Linked DNA regions of Homo sapiens. The protein of the gene in region 1 purifies or fractionates together with the protein of each later gene. This does not show direct contact. Each region holds a gene or a part of one and is shown in the gene's direction. Other genes may lie near its edges.

What was found. Proteins that work in one complex are often made in the same cells at the same time.
Region 2: the proteins of FAM98A (region 1) and ATXN2 purify together in Homo sapiens (co-immunoprecipitation; 4 studies listed by BioGRID and IntAct, with this or other methods). This does not show direct contact.

What each region holds. Positions count from the first base shown.
Region 1 is NC_000002.12:33,596,041-33,604,529, reverse strand, and holds the start of FAM98A (protein FAM98A), read left to right. Parts: upstream 1-5,230; 5' UTR 5,231-5,308; coding exon 5,309-5,361; intron 5,362-8,489. UniProt on the Homo sapiens protein: Positively stimulates PRMT1-induced protein arginine methylation. Involved in skeletal homeostasis. Positively regulates lysosome peripheral distribution and ruffled border formation in osteoclasts.
Region 2 is NC_000012.12:111,512,087-111,519,577, reverse strand, and holds part of ATXN2 (ataxin-2), read left to right. Parts: intron 1-1,150; coding exon 1,151-1,329; intron 1,330-3,214; coding exon 3,215-3,424; intron 3,425-6,038; coding exon 6,039-6,221; intron 6,222-7,491. UniProt on the Homo sapiens protein: Involved in EGFR trafficking, acting as negative regulator of endocytic EGFR internalization at the plasma membrane.

The sequences.
Region 1 (8,489 bases):
GAAATCAAATTTGGAGCTTTTATTCTGGAAAGATCTGGATATATCTCTGTGTGTGTTTTTGTATATATATACACATTTGTGTGTGTGAATGTGTGTGTGTGAATATATATATATATATATATATACACACGTACATTCACACACATAGCACTTCCTTTGTTTAGTTTAAACACAGGCAAGATGTTGTTCTCAAACTTTGTAATATTCTCTAAAAATTGCCAGGGCTCAGAAACTATACTAACATAGCCAGAGGAATGATTTGAAAAAACAGCATTCTTTAGTAATATAAAGTATTTGAGACCATACAAGATTTAATTCTACATGCTAACTTAAAAAAAAAAAGAGTTGTGCTTTCACTGTGCAAGCTGAAAAGGACTTTATTTAGCAACATATACAAACTTGCATTTCTGAGCAACACCAGTAAATCTATGGTCTTTCTATTTTCTCCTTGCTGGAGGGTCATTCTAAAGATAAATTCACTAAAAATGGAAAATGCTGCTATTTTTCAGACAGTGTTCTTTTATTTTTGATAGAAAAGTTATTTGTTTTAGATGCCTATTTAATCACCTCTTAGAAACCAATCCATGACAAATCTTATATTTGAGCTTATACCTACCTCTTTTCCATGATAAAAAATTACTTCTATAGATGCTAGAAGTAACTTTCTTAAAGATGTCAGCTGCATAAATTTTTAATTACTATATAATTAAAAACCTTCTAATAATTTTTAAGGTTATGACTTATAAAACATGTTCCTCTGGAAACTGAAATCAGTTTTCAATTTTCCCATTTACATTTCTTTCACAAGTGAAAAAAATAATTTGTCTTTATTCTCTTCAAGAAGAGCTAGAAAAGGCTGATCTTTAAGATCATTCATTGTTTCTACTCTCCAGGAAAGGCAGTGTGGTATGGACCCCCCTCCCCCGAAAACTATCTGCATCATAATCGTTGGAACATGAGACTATGGAAAAAGGGACTTTGCAGGTGTGGTTAAATTGAAGATCTTAAGGTTGGGAGATTATTCTGGATTATCTGGCACAAGGATGGGGGTCCTTATAAGTAAAAGAGGGAGGCAGGAAGGTAAGAGGGCATGACTACCATGTAGCAGGGGTCGGAGTGGTGTTGCTGGTCTTGATGAAGGAGGGGAGTCATAAGCCAAGGAAGGTGGGTGGCCTCTAGAAACCAAAACAGGGAAGAAAACAGATTCTCTCCTAGAGATTCCAGAAGAAATGCAAACCTGCCCATTTTTGCCAGGTGAGATCCATTTCAGGTGTCTGACCTCCAGAGCTGTAAGATAATAAATCTGTCTTGTTTTAAGCCTCTAAATTTGTGGTAATCTGTAGCAGCAGCAGTTAAGAATATGGACAGTAACCAGACTCCCTCAAAGATGGGACACTAGAATAGCTTTATTTTATATTTTATTTTATCTATAGAAAACAGAAAAATGATTTATTCCAAAAGATGGCAGAAATGAGAAATTCATGCTGAAAATATACCTTGGGCCGGATGTGGTGGCTCATGACGGGGTGCAGTGGCCAAGGTGGGCGGATTGCTTGAGCCCAAGATTTTGAGACCAGCCTGGGCAACATGGCAAAACCGTCTCTACCAAAAAATAAAAAAACTTAGCCAGGCATGGTGGCCAGCGGCTGCAGTCCCAGCTACTTGGGAGGCTGAGGCAGGAGGATCACTTGAGCCCAGGAGGTTGAGGCTACGAGATCACCACTGCACTTCAGCGGGAGCGACAGAGCAAAACTCTGTTTAAAAAGGAAGAAAGAAAAAAAAAAGAACACATAATTTGGTGTAATTCTGTTGGGAGAGCTCTTTCCTCTGAACGTCCTCTCCTACTGACTGCCCCACTGGAGTCTTGTCAGGCAGTAGTACGTTCTAAATAGTTCACTGATTCCCATGTTATGAGAAGGCAGGAGCCACTACAAATCCACAAATTCCAAGGACATAATAACACATTTCTCAGAAGAAAAGCATCTTCTCTCTCAAAAGAGTGCATTATCATTTTGAGGAGTTGGCACAGTTTAGGTTAAGTAGGCACATAATTCATTAAAGCATAAAAAAGTTGAAGAAAAAAATGCTGCATTGTGTTAGACATTCAAATGTGGTGTGAATGTTTAAGGCAGCTGATGCCCAAAATAAGCAAGTCAAGAAAAGTGGTGTGGTTTGGATTTTGCATCTAGAAGGAATTCTTTTCTCATGACTGCTAAGACTGAGCACTGTAAAGCCTGTCTTCCTCAAGGCCAATGACACTTCGGATACCAGATGATTTCATGTTTCAACTGCAGTCTGAAGAGAGGGTTGAGTTGGCCAGGATTGCAATCAGCCAAAAGAGACAGCAACAAACTGAACAGGTCACCTACATGGTAATGATAACTCCCTACTTAGGACCCTTAGGGATGAACCAAGGCATGAAGAAACCAGTGAAGCCCTAAAACACGCTCATTGCAATGAGACGTATGGTGAGGCCCTGATATGCCATGCTTACCGCTGGTCTGCCAGCCCCTGCCCCTCTGCCTCACTTGGGTCCCACCTGGAAGTCATTTTTAATTAATTTTTTTTTTTTTAACAGAGACAGAGTCTTGCTATGTTGCTCAAGCTGGCCTTGAACCCCTGGCTTCAAGTAATCGTCCTGCCTCAGCCTCCCAAAGTGCTGGGATTGCAGGTCTGAACTACCGCGCCAGACCCTAGAAGGGTTTTAAGTTGGTATTTTATATTCTTTTTTGAGAAAGAATCTAGAATCAAAGTCATCAGTAAAAGGGCATGTGCTGGCACTTGTGGGTGTGCCTTCTCACAAGAGTACCCTTAAGTAATTATTCAGCCTCTAGGTGAACACCTTCTAGACAGGAAGCTCATCATCTCTCAACGATACCTAAGTCACTTTAAGACTACTCTTAGAGTGTTAGAAAAATTCTTTCTTATACTGATCTGATGCAAAAACCAGAGCTTCCTCACTTCCAAATCATTGTTCCTTTCATTCTAGTAAACTCAGTTTCAAAGAGGTCTTCAGATATCAGGTTCCATTATAAACATAAATAATTTCTAAATAAAATGCAAAAGATTCCTCGTAGATCCCATTAAAATGATGACAATTTTTTTTCTTTCTTTCTGAGCCTGCCTGGTAGGGAACACAATTTTGTTTAAGTAGTATTTAAAAGCTTTTTTTAATTGCAGAGAAAGCCATTGTAGAATTCCTTTAAACCATAATATATAAAAATTTCATATCAGCAATCCTTCATTTAAGCTAACGATGTGAATTAGAAAGAGAATACTATTCCTGCAAAAGCTGGATTTTTTTTAAAGAAAGAAAGGGAATACTAATACTTTTAGGGAAGTCATCACTCGTTCATTCACTAATATTGAACACAATATTATATTCAATATTAGTTCAATATTGAACACAGCTTACATCAAAAGTGAGTCAAGAATGAAACCCTTTTTCTTTCAAAATTGATTTTTGTATTAGGCATGACTTTTTGTTTAGCACCTTCAACAACCCTATGAGGAAAATAATTATTCAATTATTATAAGGTAATTATGTACAATATATACAAGTTTAAACAAATTCAACTAGCTAAATTTTCCTCTTTTCACATCCTGCGTATAAATCCTTATTTGACTAGTCAAAAAAGAAGGAATATGGATTTAGATATACCTCAATCTCAAAATCTAGTTTCATACTTACAGGCATTAAGATCGCTGAAGATTATTAAGCCACTCAGCCTTAGTGTCCTCATCTGTAGAATGTGACTAATATTCACACAGCCTTATGGTGACTGCATCATAATGGGCCATATCAAGTGCCCATGGTAAGTGCAGAAAACCTACCCCCACTTCAGATGATGCAAAATAAGGAAACTGAAAAAGGTACTACTGGCCGGGCGCGGTGGCTCACGCCTGTAATCCCAGCACTTTGGGAGGCCAAGGTGGGCGGACCACAAGGTCAGGAGATCGAGACCATCCTGGCTAACATGGTGAAACCCCGTCTCTACTAAAAATACAAAAAATTAGCTGGGTGTGGTGGTGAACGCCTGTGGTCCCAGCTACTTGGGAGGCTGAGGCAGAATAATGGCGTGAACCCGGGAGGCGGAGCTTGCAGTGAGCCGAGATCGCACCACTGCACTCCAGCCTGAGCGACAGAGCAAGACTCCGTCTCATAAAAAAAAAAAAAAAAAAAGAAAGAAAAGAAAAAGGTACTACTAAGGATAGGAACATCTATCCATCAGACACAAAAATGCTTGAGAACTATAGAATAAAATCAACAGGTATCAATATGAAAACTCTTTAATTAAATGCCTACACGATTTAACAGTACGCCAACTTATGGTTAAATATAGTTTTCTAAATATGCCATCACTTTGAAAACATTTCTGATTTTTCAGTAATTTCTAAACACACCCTCAGTAACTGCCAAGATATCACAACACATCCACATCGTGAACTCAATGTTTCACCCGGGCAAATAATGTCAAAAGTAATGACAGTACAGCCAAAAAGTTTATTCACTGTCTAAACTACGTGGATTTAAAAATATTCTATTCTATTTGCTATGGAGTGAAGCTCCCCTTCTCCTTAAAATAACATGCTTAGTGTCTGGGAAGGGCTTTAGACATCAGGTAGAGAATGCATGAGGGAAAACGACCCAACTTTCTGAACATCCATAGTCTGCGGAAAGTTGGCTCATCCCTAACCCTGAAATAAAGCTACTGCAGCCACGAGGAAATCAAATGGCACGCTATCTGCCGTCTGCACTTGGCCCGCACCCGCGTCCTGAAGACGGGAGCGCAAGAATTCTCCCTTTCTACATGACCTGCAAGCTAAGGCTAGCACATGCCGGCACCCTACGAAGAGCCACCCGATCTCCTGTCTGGGATGCAGAGACTCGGTTTAACAGCCGACTCCACCCGCGTCCCGAGACTCTTCCAAGCTCCTTCCCGGCCCGCCGCGCCCCCTACATTCGCACATGCGTACACCCAATAACGAGAGCCGAGAGCGCTCCCCTTCGCGTGGTCCCCACGCCCAGCTGCCACGCAGCCGGTCCTCCTACCCTTCTCTGGGCGGCTAGCTTCACGATCCAGTAACGCGCATGTGCAAAACTGCGGGCCCTGTAATTCTTTAGTGGGCAGGGGTGGGGCGGTCAGTGGGACCAAGTTTCTTGCGCACGCTCCGGACATGCGCAGTGCGGGAGCTGAGGCGCCAGCTGTGGATTTGGAAGTTCCGGGGAAGTCGCGCATGCGCGAGTGTACGCGTTGCCGGCGAAGAGGGGAGCCTGACGACTCGGAAATTTGAATACCACAGTAGCATGGAGTGTGACCTCATGGAGACTGACATCTTGGAGTCGTTGGAAGATCTAGGGTAAGATTGTCAGGGCACGGGTCTCCCAAGCCCCACGCTGCCGGCCCCCTGGGAACACCTCCTGCGCCCCAGTCTGAGACACCTGCCTCTCCACGCCGCACCCCGTGGCTCCTGGCTGTCGCTTCCCTTTGGCCCCGGCACCCCCAATGCCACGTCCACTGTCTGCACTGCTAGCTCGGGGTCCTCCAATCCCAACACCCCTAGGCCTGCCCAGTGCTCCCTGCAGGCGAGCTACCCGCAGCGTTTGTCAGTCATGCGTGTCATTGTCTGGGCTCTGATTTTCGCCACCCCCACTCCCCGAGCTTCTCTCCTCGCTTCATCCTCCTGCCCTACCCCTTAACCCCTCAACTCTAAAGGTTGCCAAAGTTGATTCTGCTTTCCTACTTGTTCTCCAAATTTCCTACTCCCATCTTGAGCCCCTCCTCCTACCCCACCCCACTTCTCTCAAAATTTCTCCTTTGCCCAGTCATCTCTGCATGCACCCAGGCTTCGCTAAGCCACTTGTATGGGCGCTGCATCTGTTCCGCTGGCCAGCTCGCTTGTGCATCTAACCTATCACCACGTCCCTGGGAACCACCAGCAGTTTGCTTTGACTCTGTGATACTCTGCCTCGTTGAGCCCCATTAGACCAGGGTCGTCTTCACCCACGAAGAACCTGCGTATTTGTTTTGCATTGTGTCTCTCCTTCTCCTGATATTTATTCAACCATAATTCATCAGTATCTAGAAGCTGGAAATAGGGTTTGTTATCTCACTGGGTCACCCAGATCAGTGTACTCTATTAAACTTGAGAACGTGGACCCTCTTGGGCTAAATGTGGTTCCAGAAACAAATTGTATGGTTAGATACTTACCTACAGGTACGGTATCAAAACAAAGTACAGATTTAGCTAGCTGTATTTCTAAGTAACAAGTTCTTTATCAAAATTTTCTCTTAGGTTTTTCCATGACAAGGAAACCTTTGAGAGAAACCTTTCTTTAGGAAAAAACACCTTGAGGATTCCCAAAGTCTGCCTATTTGAATAATTTACTACCCTAGTAGAAATTTTTAGGAACGAAGTAGTCTTGCTTATCATCTGTCTTTGTCACAGTGAAATACTATTGTTCTTTTCTTGGAAACTTGCTCTGAATTTTTATAAATATTCCAGACTTTAGGGGGCTTCTTTCTTTCATTAGGGCATATGTTAAAGTCATTCAGCAAAATAGTCTCTTTAGTTGACATCTCAGACTGAATCGCTTGTTCACACATGAAACCATTCATTCATTAGGACTTTTTTAGGAACAGTTTCTTTGTGGCAGTGTTAGGCCCTTAGAGTACAAGGTGAGGTGGAAGAGGGGTTCACAGGATACTGGGAAAATATGCTGTGAGGAGCCCTGAGGAGGGTCCCTTTACTGGGAAAGGAAATGAAATCCTAGAAGCTTCTTTCTGGAATAAATGACACTATAGTACTGTAGTGGAATGAGTGGAATGAAAGGAAGGGGGTAGACCTTATTAAATGTAGTCTTTCTGCATGGATAGTGGTCACTTAAGAATTGGCCACGGATGCTGTTTCTTCCCATTATTGTCTTTTTTTTTCCCCCTCCTTTTTTTAACTTTTTATTCTTTTGGGTACTGTACAAGTAATTGTTACTGTAGTAATTGTAATCACATAACTACTTGACATAGAGTGTAATGTAAACCATGGATTTTCTGAAAACTGTTATAAATTTTAACCTTAACTACTTAGTTTGGTGGCATTCAAATATTAAAAGTCAGCCTTAATTAACTGAAATGTACTTTTAAAGGATTAACTGAGAAATATTAGAATTAAATGACTACCTTTTCTATTTATTTATTTATTAAGAGATGAGGTCTTGCTCTGGTGACCAGGCTGGTCTCGAACTCCTAGCCTCAAGCGATCCTCCCACTTCAGGCTCCGGAGTAGCTGGGACTACAGGTGTATGCCACTGATCCTGGCAAATAGTCATCTTTTATCTCTTACCTGGCACACAGTAGGAATTCAGTAACTACTTGTTGAATAAACTAATGAAGTCTAAATGTGAAACTCAAGGAGAAACTTCTAGGCCTAGTCTTTTGATTTCAGTGTCTAATAATACATAGTTTATAAATCTAGATGCCAGACTACATGTGATCTCATTTTTTTATGTATGATTTGTTTTCATTTTGTTGCATATACTGTATAAACCTATAATCATATTTTAAAGGGTTTGAGAACTGTCATTTCTCTAACATACCTGTAGTTCTCAACATTATATTATCTTTTTTTTTTTTTTTTTTTGATACGGAGTCTTGCTCTGTCGCCCAGGCTGGAGTGCAGTAGTGCGATCTCGGCTAACTGCAAGCTCTGCCTCCTGGATTCAAGCCATTCTCCTGCCTCAGCCTCCTGAGTAGCTGAGACTACAGGCGCCCTCCACCATGCCTGGTTAATTTTTTTGTATTTTTATTAGAGATGGGGTTTCATCGTGTTAGCCAGGATCGTCTTGGTCTCCTGACCTCGTGATCCACCTGCCTCGGCCTCCCAAAGTGCTGGGATTACAGGCGTGAGCCACCACGCCTGGCCTAAACATTATATTATCTTAAGCATATTTATTGTATCATCTTAAGTAAGCATTATTATCAATATTTAAGAGAATGTAAAGCAATCTGAATAATATGTATTTAAGATTACTTGGAGTGACAGAAATCTTATATTTTAGAATATTGGTGATTGGAGTTCATTATGACTGTCATCTTTTATGAATGTTTGAACATTTTTAAATTTTTTAAAATTATATTGGAATCACTTACAAAGGATTAGGATTCAGATGCGCCAGTTCATTAACTGCCAATATTTATTAACCTAACCTGACGTTTCTTTGGTACTAGAATGTCTTACTAGTCTTAACTGGCATTAAATTTATAAAAATGATATAAATGGTTAACTGGAAAGTTTTTACTTTTAAAGGAAGTCATTAAAAACCTAACTAAGCCTGGGCAACATAGTAAGACCCCTGGCTATTTTATAAAAAATAAAAAAAAAGCCAGGTTTGGTGGCTTGTGCCTTCACTGCACTTCAGCCTATGTGACAGTGCAAGACCTCATCTCAAAATAAAAACATAATCTAGTTGTTTTCTGGAAAATTTTTAGAAA
Region 2 (7,491 bases), on another chromosome or scaffold:
TTGCTTGGTTAAAGGCATGTTCAAAGTACTAGGAACATACAGAATGAGGAGGAGCTAGCATAACCTGTAGAGTCAGAGAAAACCTCATTGAGGAGGTGACATTTTGTGATAAGATAATAGGGTCTTTGACACTTAGAGAAGAGTTGGGAGAAGAGTTTATCACCTGATGAAAAGCCATGTACAAGCATGGCTATGAGAAAATTTGGCCAGCTCAGGAGAGGGCTGGTTGTTGCATGTGTCTGGAACACAGGATCTGTGTCAGGTGCAGCAGTGGCAGTTGATAGTAGGAACTGAGGTCATTAAAGGACTTGGCATGTCATGCTAAAGAGCACCCTGTTGGAAGGAGATGGGGTGAATAAACCCTGGGGCATTGAGGACTGGCTGAGACACAGAGAACAGTTAGTGCACTGAAATAGTTCAACTGTGAGAATTTGGTAACCACCTAGTTAAGGGATGAGCCTGAGGTTTATTTGATAACTAAGTGACTTAATGGATGTACTGGTAAGAGAGAGAGGAAACATGGAGCAAGTTTGAGGGGAAAAACAGTGACTCCGTTTGTGCAGCTAATTGCATATGTGGGCTTGTGGGTCTTTCATTTATTCATAAACGTGTTGAGAAATACCTGCTACCTATCTAGTAAAGTAAGAGATGCATCCTCTCTTAAAGGCAGTCAGCTTAGAGTCTGGTGATTTGAATTGACATGTCCACTGATAGATGTTGACACTGTGAGACTGGCGGTTCAGTTTGAGGTTTCATCAGCATTGCCGATATTGGAGCCATGAAAAACCAAAGAACAGCCAGTGAGAGAAGAGATCTCAGAGAAAATAAAATTGAGAAAGTGAAGGACAAAAAATGTTGTGAAGATAGACCAAGATTGATGGAATCAGCCATAGAGAGGTCAAGTGGGATGAGAATGAGCACGCATCTGTTAAACTTTGTGCTTAGGAGCAGAATCTAAGGGAAGGGACAGTCCAGAGGTTAGAACTCAGGGTAAGATGGAAGAACAGGGGCATCTGGGAGTGAGGCAGTTTGGTTTAGTGTAGAACCTTTTTGTAACAAGCATTCCCTTCTGTCTAGATGACTTTTAGATATGTTTCATTGGCTTGGTACCTTTTAGAATAAAATGATTTAGAGGATCTCTCATTTTCAGGGAAAATAAATATATTCCTCCTGGACAAAGAAATAGAGAAGTCATATCCTGGGGAAGTGGGAGACAGAATTCACCGCGTATGGGCCAGCCTGGATCGGGCTCCATGCCATCAAGATCCACTTCTCACACTTCAGATTTCAACCCGAATTCTGGTTCAGACCAAAGAGTAGTTAATGGAGGCAAGTATTTTGACCAGACTTGTCAATATCATTGATAAAATAGTTTTCTAAATACTTAAAATACTTAAAATAGTTTACATAACTGATATGAATGTGCACTTTAATGATTTGGTGAGTAGCTTTCACTTCAGCATTACTTAAAATTGGCTTTTGTGGATATTAAATTAGTAAAACATTGTATATGTCATTGACATATATATTATTTAGCATGATGAAATATTCATGATGTACTAAGATAAAGTGCTACATTTAACCCAAGACAATCACTTGGCCAAAAACACTTCACATATAAAGAAATTGGAAACTTTGGGTAGGTTCTCAATTTTAAAAACACTGGATAATAAAATTTTTTAGACATAATTTATATGGAAAATTCTAACCTATGTGCAACACTGTGGTTAATATAGATCAATTTTCATTATTTGTTTCTATATTATGCTTACTTCAAGAAAGGATCTGAGGTAACTTATAATACAAGACATGATCAAGAGTCATGTGAAGAAAGTGACTAGAGAAATTTGCTTAAAAAACAACAAAAACAACCCTTAGTCTAAGGGTGGATGTTACAGTTTAGCAACTTAAGTAAAAGAAACCTGAATCTTTAGTAGGAAGACATTTTTTACTCTACCTCTAAATCTAGGTTGAATATATCTTGTAGGTTGTGGATCTTTTCCATAAATCAGGGATACTGAACAACAGTTCTATGGATGGTATGGAAATAGTAATAGCAATAGTATGTTACTAACTTTGTGGGAAAAGAGTGGACATTCAATTTTAGCTATTTAAATTTGGAAAGTTAGATGAAAATAGAGAACACTAAGTTTCCAATTTCATTTGTTTTCATTGAGTCTTTTCTCCAGAATTCCTCTCCAAATGGACACTCTTGAGTATTTTCAGTACTTAATATTGGGGGTGAAATTTCTTTGCTCACTGAGGAAAGATTTTAGTTGTTTATAAACAGAATTTTAAAGTTAAAAAACCTGAAGGGGGCTGAGAAATATATGATACTTAAGTGTGTGGAACCCTATGGAGAGGAGACCTGGACTGTTTGATAAGATTAAGGTAAGTGATATGTAATGTTAAATACTAGCTGTATCTTTACCTAGGCATATCCATCAGTATAAATTTATTTGGTGATGACTGCTTTGTAGTTGCAGTATTTATTAAGCAGTCGCTTAGATAAGTGTTTAACTGTATAAATTATTTAGAAGGTCTCCCTTTTTCTAGTTTAATGAGGTCAAGACTTTTTTTTTGAAATAGCAATGAATATTATCATTTGATACTCACAGGAGTCACAAACTCTAGAAGAGTAATGTTTTATTTCTACTTAAATGGGACTTGCTTAATAAGATTCCAAACTGAGTTCTGGGTTCAAGTGTAAACCTGATGAAAATCATAGATAATTGTAAGGAACCAGCATTTCTAATTGGATATAATAGCTACTGCTTATTTTCGTTATGCCTCAGAGTTAAAACTAATACAGTAAATAATCTTACTCCTGAGTAGGAATTATTGTGATTTATTATGTGAAATTATCTAGTGTATGTTATATTCCTTTAAACAACCAGTTACTGAGAAACAGTTATAGAAGCAGGATTAATAGGCAAAGTCTTAACTGTCTTCTTCAATAGTGTGTATAGATCCTAATTAACCCTTTGGGAACGTGTATTCATTTAAACAGACTTAATCTTAAGGAGGTTAAAGTAAAATGTGAATTTATGTCAGTTAAGTTATGCTAAAACTTATCACAAATCAAATGACTGTCCTCAAAGGGTTAAAATGTACAAGAAATCATTTTTGTCATTTTACTTTTTTTCTGTTTACTTTTTTCCCTCATTTTTTTCTTTAGTTTTTATACTTTCCTTCATATCATTTGTTCTGTCAGGTGTTCCCTGGCCATCGCCTTGCCCATCTCCTTCCTCTCGCCCACCTTCTCGCTACCAGTCAGGTCCCAACTCTCTTCCACCTCGGGCAGCCACCCCTACACGGCCGCCCTCCAGGCCCCCCTCGCGGCCATCCAGACCCCCGTCTCACCCCTCTGCTCATGGTTCTCCAGCTCCTGTCTCTACTATGCCTAAACGCATGTCTTCAGAAGGTACAATACCACAATTTGTTCATGTTTTTGTTTGTCTTTGTTTAACTCCTATGTGAGTTTATAATTACAAAATAGTTTCCTCTTCATTATTTAATAACCTATAATTTCTGTGTTTTAACTTTAGTTTATTAAAACTATTTCTATTAACCTTTTGTTCATTAGAGAGAAATTTGATAAATGTGTGAAGCTATAAACTCTCTTGAATTGTTGTTAAAAAGGGGGTTTATCTCTGCCTGATAATTATGCTTCTTTACAGCCCCAGAAGGGTCTGCCCCACAGCCTTCCCCCTCCTTATTTGCACTGTATACAGTAGTTAAACAAATGAACTTTCTTCAGCCAGTCTTGAACTTAGGTTCATTTTACAGCTCTTTGGCCAAGGTCCTAGTGAACCTTCCTATTGGCCATAAGCAGGGATGGTGTTTTCTGGGTCTTTTTTGAGAGCGACAGCCCATGTAGCTGACTTTGCGTGTCTGCCCTTAGATTAAAGTAGTTGATTTTTAGAATGCCAGAAGAATTCTAAATTTAACTGAGTAATTTTTTTAAAGTTAGCTTTGCAATCTTACATAGTGAAAGGCTGCTTTAATCTGGAAGAAGTCCTTGATCTGAGATAAAATTGATAAAAACGACATATGAATTTGAATATTTAGCTATTTCTTTCCTCGTCAAAAATAAGAATAAAATCTTGTAATTCTTATTCAGTATTTGGCGCTAAATCCATCATTGCCACATATCAAATACAGGGATATGTTGTAGAAAGGTAACATTCTAATTTAAATGCCACCCATATATTAAAAACCTGTTTTCTGAATCATAATGTCCTTTTGATACTAGTTCTGAATATTTGTGTTAAAATTTTAATCTGATTTGTTCATTAAAATTAGTTAATATTGCTTATGTTGGGACTAATAAAGTTTTCCGCACAAAATGTGTTTCTCCTGCTTCCCTGGAGAAAACTGTATTGGCTACTTTTAAATAAATTGTTACCATCTAAGCAGGCAGGTCATATGACTTTGACTGAAGCATCTAACCTTGAAGAGCAAGTTCCACTGATTTTCAAGGTGACTTCTTTGCTCAAAAGGGCCTTAATAGTGGTCACTAAATGCAAAATTCTGTTGATATTTTTCTTGTAGTCCATCATTTGAGTAAGCGATGTTTATTTAATGAGAATATATTAAATAAAACATGATCATTAATGACTGTGAACATCTTTATTACATTAAGATTTAAGGACTGCTCATGTATTAACTTCACACAGAAATATACTTTCTGTGTCATTCAGAGATGTTGAATATTTCCATTTGAAAATTATAGTGTATAACATTAGCATTCTTCTAAAGATCATGTTCGTGTTTAAATTCCTGTTGGAAGCCAGGCATGGTGGCTAACGCCTGTAATCTCAGCACTTTGGGAGGCTGAGGCAGGTGGATCACTTGAGGTCAGGAGTTTGAGACCAGCCTGGCCAACATGGTGAAACCTCGTCTCTACTAAAAATACCCAGCTACTTGGGAGGCTGAGGCAGGAGAATCACTTGAACCTGGGAGGCAGAGGTTGCAGTGAGTTGAGATCGTACCACTGCACTCCAGCCTGGGCGACAGAGACAGACTCTGTCTTATAAAAATAAAAATAAAATAATAATTCTATTGGCAACATATATTAATTTGAAGTTCTAAAGAGTTTGGCAGCCGGGTGAGAGAGTGAGGAGATTTGGCTTTGACATTAGGGAAGTTTTCGCTTGGTGTTAACACCAGTAGGCTTCTCTGATGAGGGCCATTCTGTCCACTCTTTTACCTGATAGATTGGTCTAATGCACAGTAGACTGATTTAGAAAGAGTAGTCACTAGTGGCATGGCAGAATCAATAATGTAGAATTTTGACAATTCATATAGTGCTGATTTCTCCCCCAAATGTCAGTTATTTTGGTCATCTATTAATAGACTAATACAAGTCATCCCTTTAATAGAATTTTCAGCTCACAGCCTGCTAAGCCTAAGAAACTGCTTACAGGTTACTGCTTACTGTTTTAAGCCGAGTTTTAAAATTGATGATCATGATAGAAGAGATAAATAAACTAAAATTTTAGAGAAATTTAAGAAGGGTATGTACATATGTTTTAGTGGTATCGGGGTGTATAGGGATTAATAGTCTTCTGTTTAAATTTTTTTTTTCTAATTTTAGAAGTAATGTAGAAAATTCGGGTCAGGGAAAGGTAAAATATATGGAAAGTTAAAAATATTTTATCATGTAGTCATAATTTCTAGTAACATATTTCTTTACAAATAAGACATAGTTGAAACAGATTGCTACAGTTCTTTTAAGAGTTGACATCTTATTGTTGATTTCTTACCACCAACTTCATCCCTCCCTTTCTTTAAAAATAAAGGGAAATAATAAAATTTATTTATAAAACTTTGTGGCATTCCACAAAATAATTCTGAAAGAATTAGTATGGCCAAAAAAATATGTATGGTGTTTTTTTTTTTTCTATTTTTAACCAAGGAAAAACTGTAGAGTGAGTGAGTGTGTGTGCATGTGTGTGTGAATGGGTGTATTTAGCAGAAAAGTAGTACTGATGAATATCATGGAATTTATGTGATGTTCACTGTTTCTTCCTTAGGGCCTCCAAGGATGTCCCCAAAGGCCCAGCGACATCCTCGAAATCACAGAGTTTCTGCTGGGAGGGGTTCCATATCCAGTGGCCTAGAATTTGTATCCCACAACCCACCCAGTGAAGCAGCTACTCCTCCAGTAGCAAGGACCAGTCCCTCGGGGGGAACGTGGTCATCAGTGGTCAGTGGGGGTAGGTAACACTTGGGCATAATGATGGTACTCATTTTGTCATTACACTAGATATAAAGAGGGCTGAGCTACAACTCTGTTTGAGGAAGTGTAAGTATGTATATGTTAAAAATAGTAGAATCACCAGGAATTGGGAAACCCATATTTTTATTCTGGGCTCTACCACTTATTCATCATATATTAAAGCAAGTCAGACACTCATTCTGAAGTTGAGATTTCGCAGTGAGTAAAGTGTTAATAATTCTTGCCTAGTCTACATTATGGGATTGTGATGAGATTCCTATAAGGTTCATAAATACAGATATATTGTAAAACTATAAAGTTTTGTAAAGTACCTCTCTAATATGAGGCAAACACAGTATGTAACACTATTTGGAGGGACCGTATTTCCTTATCTTTTTAGCAGCTTTGTTTATCAGTACATTCTATAAACATTTATTTTTGGCTTACATTGTAGTGTGTTTCTATAGCATCTGTATATGGCACTAATTCCCAACTATATTTCCATAATAAGGAATATCAAATACAAATAAAGGGTCCAAGTTTTATTTGTGATTAGCATAAGGAATATGCTGACAGCAGCTATAAAAGTATAAAAATTAGGCTGGGTGTGGTGGCTCACGCCTGTAATCCCAGCACTTTGGGAGGCTGAGGTGGGCGGATCACAAGGTCAGGAGATCGAGACCATCCTGGCTAACACGGTGAAACCCCGTCCCTACTAAAAGTACAAAAAAAATTAGCCGGGCATGGTGGCGGGTGCCTGTAGTCCCAGCTACTTGGGAGGCTGAGGCAGGAGAATGGCATGAACTCGGGAAGCGGAGCTTGCAGTTAGCTGAGATCACGCCATTGCACTCCAGCATGGGCAACAGAGCAAGACTCTGTCTCAAAAAAAAAAAAAAAAAAAAAGTTTAAAAACTAGACGTTGACATGATTTTACAATAAGGCTGACTGCTTTTGCTACTTTGCCAATCAGTCCTTAGTGCTTTGTTCCCATAACTGTGGTAAGCAAGAGCTTACAAAGAATACTTAAAACAAACAAACAAACAAACAAAAAAAACACTTTTTCTCTTTTAATCAGTCCAGAGAACCTTTAAAAGAAACAAGATCGGCCAGTTGCTGTGGCTCATGCCTGTAATCCCAGCACTTTGGGAGGCTGAGGTGGGTGGATCACTTGAGGTCAGGAGTTCAAGACTGGCCTGACCAACATGATGAAACCCCATCTCTACTAAAAATACAAAATTAGCTGAGTGTGGTGGCTATTTGAGAGGCTG